Regions from separate parts of the Homo sapiens genome. Here region 1 is linked to region 2. Evidence: fine-mapped expression QTL. A gene starts in region 2. The other region holds a variant in brackets. All regions are shown on one strand. Distances are from middle to middle.

Region 1 (2,893 bases), 20 kb before region 2:
CCGGACAGAGTCAGGCTGCCCAAGGTGCCAGGGCCGGGTTGGCCTTCCAGCCCCACCCGAGGGACCCACCGCAGCCTCCTGGCCTCCCTTGGGATGGGAGAGCACTGAGGGCTGCAGCCCCTCGTTACACTCACCCTCCGGCCACAGGTGCCCCGTGCAGGCTCCCACCCAGTACTCACTGTCAAAGTCGGGGGGACCTGAGGCTCCCAAGGAATTTTTTTTTTTTTTTTGAGACAGAACTGGCCGGGCACGGTGGCTCACGCCTGTAATCCCAGCACTTTGGGAGGCCGAGGCGGGTGGATCACAAGGTCAGGAGTTCAAGACTAGCCTGACCAACATAGTGAAACCCTGTCTCTACTAAAAATACAAAAATTAGCCGGGCGTGGTGGCACACGCCTGTAGTCCCAACTACTCAGGCGGCTGAGGCAGGAGAATCGCTTGAACCCGGGAGGCAGAGGCTGCAGTGAGCCGAGATTGTGCCACTGCACTCCAGCCTGGGCAACAGAGCGAGACTCCATCTCAAAAAAAAAAAAAAAAGACTTGTAGGCTGGAGTGAAGCGCTACAAACATACCTCACTGCAGCCTGGACCTCCAGGGCTCAAGCAATCCTCCTACCTTAGCTTCCCAAAGTGCTGGGCCAATGACAGCGTTTGTTTTTGAGACGGGCTCTTGCTCTGTGGCCTAGGATAGGGTGCAGTGGCCTAATCATACCTCATGGCAGCCTCAAACTCCTGGGCTCAAGCCATGCTCCCACCTGAGCCGCTTGAGTAGCTGGGATACAGGCACACACCACCACACCCAGCTAATTTTTTACTTTTAATTTTTTAAAGGTTGGGGGGCAGGGGGCGGCCGGGTGCAGTGGCTCAAGCCTGTAATCCCAGCACTTTGGGAGGCCGAGGTGGGTGGATCACGAGGTCAGGAGATCAAGACCATCCTGGCTAACATGGTGAAACCCCGTCTCTACTAAAAATACAAAAAATTAGCCGGGCGTGGTGGCGGGTGCCTGTAGTCCCAGCTACTCGGGAGGCTGAGGCAGGAGAATCACTTGAACCCGGGAGACAGAGCTTGCAGTGAGCCGAGATCATGCCACTGTACTCCAGCCTGGGCAACAGAGCGAAACTCCGTCTCAAAAAAAAAAAAATTAGCCGGGCGCGGTGGCGGGCGCCTGTAGTCCCAGCTACTCAGGAGGCTGAGGCAGGAGAATGGCGTGAACCCAGGAGGCAGAGCTTCCAGTGAGCCGAGATCACACCACTGCATTCCGGCCTGGGTGACAGAGCAAGACTCC[G/A]CCTCAAAAAAAAAAAAAGAAAAGGTGGGGGGCGTCTCACTATGTTGACCAGGCTGGTCTTGAACTGCTGGCCTTAAGCGATCCTCCTGTCTAGGCCTCCCAAAGTGTTGGAATTACAGGAGTGAACCATCGTGCCTGGCTAATAATTCCTTTTAAAAAGCAGCTTACCCTTATTTTCACGTGTGGGCCTAATTTAGTTCACTTAAAAAAATCATTTATCTTCACCCCAGCCCTATGAGGCAGGCACTGCCGGTCCTGGTCTGTGGTAGAGGGGAGGGCAGAGGAGCCGTGAGGGTGACCAGGCGCTGTGGGTCGGTGCTGGGTCCAGTCAGACCAGGACTCCTGGCCAGTCACGGCACCTTGACCCCGGCAGTCCTCGCCCTGGGCGGTGAGCACCACACACAGGGCTTACGCGAGCACACACGCATATGCACGCACCGGCAGCCTTGGGCTGAGCCGGCTGTCAGCCTCTGCCCTGCTCCAGCTTGGACCAGGCTGGCTCCTTGCAGGACCAGGAGGGTGTCCGGCGACTGGACACGGAGACCAAGCCTCCCTCAGCCCCGCCTGGGTTTGAAGGCTGCTGCACTCGACCCCAGACCCCAGAGCTGAAGGTTTACCTGTGCTCAGCCCCTGAGCCCCCGCCTCCCGCTGGTCCCTAAGCCCCCCCGGCAGGGCCGCAGAGCCACAGCTGCAGCGGCTCCTGGGAGGCTGGGAGCTCCTCAGAGGCCCACACAGCTCTAACTCCTACAAGCCCCTGATTACAGTTCAACTCCCGGATCAGCCGATCAGGTAACATGGCTGGAGAAACCCATGACTCAGCAATCTGTAGGTAAATAATTGAACTACAGAGTCCAGGGCACAGACCACTGCCTGCAGGTTGGCGCCACCACCCCCACTCTCCCCGCTGCTCGCGGGAGCCAGAGGGCCCTGCGGTCCTCGGTGGTCTTGCCAGCCCCTCGTCATCCCAGGGCCCTCCGCGCCTGTGAGGACTCCCTCAGGTAAGAACCATCCTGGGCCCAGATCTCAGCTGCAGCAGAGGGGGGCGTGGGAGCCGAGGCCAGAAATGCCCTGGACTCGTGGTTTCTTAGGGGCACCCTCAGGCTCAAGGCAGGTGGCCCTACTGTCCCCATTCCACACACCTGGACCCCAGGGGCTTGGGGTGGGCTTCAGGGCATCCAGGGACCCAGTGTGGTGGGGTCTTCCAGGGAAGGGGACACAACTCTTGCAATGTTGCCTGAGGGCCAGGACCCCCGCTCTGTGCCCCAGGGGTGCTGTGCCCAGCCTGCATGTGTCAACCTACCAGGCTGGGCTCACTGCCCCAACACACCCGCCAGGAGACTGGAGCTCGCACACCCTGGGCCAGCGTGCAAACAGCAGGCTCAGCCCAGGCTCCAGGGTGTCCTGGGCACCTGGTGTCCTGGGAGCAAAGTCTTTGCCTAACGTCGCTGAGAAGAATGTTTAAAGTGAAAGTACATTGGAGTCTGCAAACAGGACAGACCCGAGGCCTCACGTGGGACCAGTCAGGCCTCTAAGCACCGCCTCCCTAACGCCACGGTGTTTTCCGAGATCAAGGGAAAGGTCAGGTGCCCTTCCGGCTCTGCCGGCCCA
Region 2 (2,893 bases):
TGGAGTGTTTGCTGGAAGGATGCTTTGCCCGCCATTTTAATTAACGTGTGCGTCAGAAAGCAGAAAGTTCTGGCAGAAATGGTAGATGAGGGTTTTCCTTTTTAAGATGTTTTTGATGCTCTCCACTGTCTCCTAAATGGAGAAAGGTATGTCCTTAAACAGTTTTTCCTCAGAAGCCAGCTGCAGTTTGCACCGTGGTTCACTGCCATGAGCACCACGGGCTCAGTGAGCCACCTCCTCCTCATGGGCCACAAGGCTGGGTCCTAGCTCTCCCAGGGCCCAGGCACAGGGGGTCTTGGGGCCTGGCTGAGGGCAGGCTCGGGGTGGGGTCTGGCACAGGAGACAGGGAATGCAGGGGTGGTGACTCCGGGCCTCCCAGCATAGGTGGGCATCAGGAAAGGATTTCTGCGGAGCACCCTGCCACAGGGCCTCTGCTCCGGCTTTCCGCCTGGACGCCTTCCTGCTGCCCCCAGGCAGCCCTCATTCTTCAGGGTGCTGTCTGTCCCAGAGCGCAGCTCCTGGAGGGTGAAGGTTCCCTGAAGCTTTGGCTGCATTCCCTTTACCCTGGGGTCCACCCAGGGTCCTACCCCAGCAGCTCAACCAGCAGCTTCTGGACAAACAGAATCCTCCCTGGTTGAGGACTGCGTCTCCCCCCTCACCATCTCAGGGGCCTGCTCCTCCCTCCTCAGACTGGGTCCCCGGCTCACCCTCCATTCCTGGAATCCCCTGTGGTCTGGGTGCCCTCACCAGCACAGCCCCTAGGACAGGTCTCCCGGCTCCTTCCCTCCAGAGTCCACAGCCCCCAGCCCCTTTCAGGCGTCTCCCCACAGGCCCTTCCCTGCTCTTCCTGCCCCCTGAGACCGCCTGCTGCGATGGCCCTGGAGCCCTGCCCTCTGCAGGTCCCCGCTCGGTGGCCCGGGGTGGGGTCCCCCGCTTCGCAGACTCCTATCCACAGTTAGGCCCACGGGGGCAAGGACCCAGACTGCTGCCAGCGGCGGGGAGGGGTGACCCGCGTGGACGCGGCTCTCAAAGGACACCAGCGCCACCTGAACAAGACCCGTGGCGCGCACGAGGCAGGAGAGCTGGGCGCTCGGCGTGAGGCCCGGGTGGGGGTCGCGAGCGGACAGCCCCGGGCCGCAGGCGGGTCCCCCGTTGCAGTGAGGACAGCGGTCGGGCGCCGGGGGTCCTGGGCCTCGGGCAGGGCCAAGTCTGCGCGTGCGAAGACCCCACGGACGGAGCCGCCCAAGCACCGCAAACCCCGCTTTCCGGGACCCACTGTGGGAGGCCCGCAGCGCTGCCCCTCGCCGGGGGCGTCCTGCGCGGCCGGGGGCCTCGGACAGCATCCGCGTCTCGCGTGGGAGGCGCCTGTCTGCGCAGCCGCGGGCCGGGACCCCGCAGGTACAACGCCGCGCGTGCGGCGTCCGGAGAAGTCTGGCCCGGCTGCGGTCAAACCGAGCCCACGTGGACCAGTTCCCCACGGCTGGTTCGCGAGCGGCCTCCGCGCACAGGCCCCGCCCCTTAGCAGGCCCCGCCCCGCCCGATCACAGGGCCCGCCCCCAGCCCCGCTCATCGACGGGGCACGGCTGCGACCCTTAGCAGGCCCCGCCCCGCCAGCCCCCAGATCCGCCCACCAGCAGCGCCCCGCCCCGCCCCGCGGCCCGCGCCTGCGCAGTGGGGCAGGCGCAGTCGGAAGCAGTGTACCGGGCCGTGGAGCGGCGGCTCCTGTACCCCCGGCGCGGACCTAAAGGGGCTCGGGCCGCTCGGGCCGGGAATGGCGGCGGCGGCCGAGCCCGGGGCCCGCGCCTGGCTGGGCGGCGGCTCCCCGCGCCCCGGCAGCCCGGCCTGCAGCCCCGTGCTGGGCTCAGGAGGCCGCGCGCGCCCGGGGCCGGGGCCGGGGCCGGGACCCGAGCGGGCGGGCGTCAGAGCCCCGGGCCCCGCTGCCGCGCCGGGACACAGCTTCCGGAAGGTGACGCTCACCAAGCCCACCTTCTGCCACCTCTGCTCCGACTTCATCTGGGGGCTGGCCGGCTTCCTGTGCGACGGTGAGCGCCCGGGCCCGATGCCTACCCGGCTGCAGCCCTGCCTCTGCCCCGTGGGCGGGAGCCTGAGCGGAGGTGGCACCGGCGCTTTCGGGGGAGTGGAGGGCGGGGTCCCAGCCCTGCTCGCGGGACGTGCCTTCGTGGGGCGGCCGGGGCCTGTGCGCCGTGGGGCCGCTCCAGGCTGCGGGCTTCCTCACCTGGGAGGTGCGGACAGCATCTCCATAGTGCCGCGCGATGGCTGCGACCCAGGGGCTGTGCCTGATGCGAGCGGGACCTCAGCTGGGGTCCCCATGGCCGGCTTCCTCTCCCAGTGGCTGGGGCAGCAGGTGTGGCTAAGCAGGGCTGGCCTGGGCCCCTGGCCCTAGCCCTTCTCATGCTGTGGCCCAGAGTCCCAGCCTCCTGGAGAGCCAGGCCGGGCCCTGCCGTCCCGGTGCGCGTGTCCCAGCCCTGCTCCACCCAGCTGCCCAGCTCTTGCTGGGGTGAGGACAGCCCTTCCCTGTTCTGGGCCCGGGTGCTCCCAGGGCTGGCTCTCATCTTCCCCCGCGGCAAGCAGGCGGGCCCCGGGGACTACAGCCCAGCCTCTGGAGGGAGCGAGGGACAGGGGGACCACAGCCCAGCCTCTGGAGGGAGCGAGGGACAGGGGGACCACAGCCCAGCCTCTGGAGGGAGCGAGGGACAGGACCGGAGTTCTGGACGTTTGACACTTACTGTGTCCTGGCCAGGGACGCTGAGGTGGGAGGGGCTATCCTTAGCCTCAGGCCTTTCTCTGGGGATAGGGGTCCACTCAGGTCAGGGTCCGCAGAGGAGACTGTCCCCTCACACGGGGATGTCGTCTGTGGTGGAAACGGCATGGT

The links. PIP is the estimated chance that this variant, and not a neighbour inherited with it, causes the effect.
Region 1: its variant is fine-mapped to the expression of DGKQ in whole blood (INTERVAL, PIP above 0.99).

What each region holds. Positions count from the first base shown.
Region 1 is chr4:992,691-995,583 of GRCh38, reverse strand. The region is part of intron 2 of IDUA (alpha-L-iduronidase); the gene reads right to left. It overlaps SLC26A1 (solute carrier family 26 member 1), which reads left to right and starts at 2,180. Exons shown (of 3, transcript NM_022042.4): 1 at 2,180-2,283. RefSeq lists enhancers at 1,220-2,031, 2,032-2,843. The variant G/A (reference allele first, on the strand shown) is at 1,286.
Region 2 is chr4:972,361-975,253 of GRCh38, reverse strand. DGKQ (diacylglycerol kinase theta) reads left to right here and starts at 1,685. Exons shown (of 23, transcript NM_001347.4): 1 at 1,685-2,042. The coding sequence starts at 1,772. RefSeq lists silencers at 1,417-1,756, 1,857-2,306 and an enhancer at 2,541-2,893.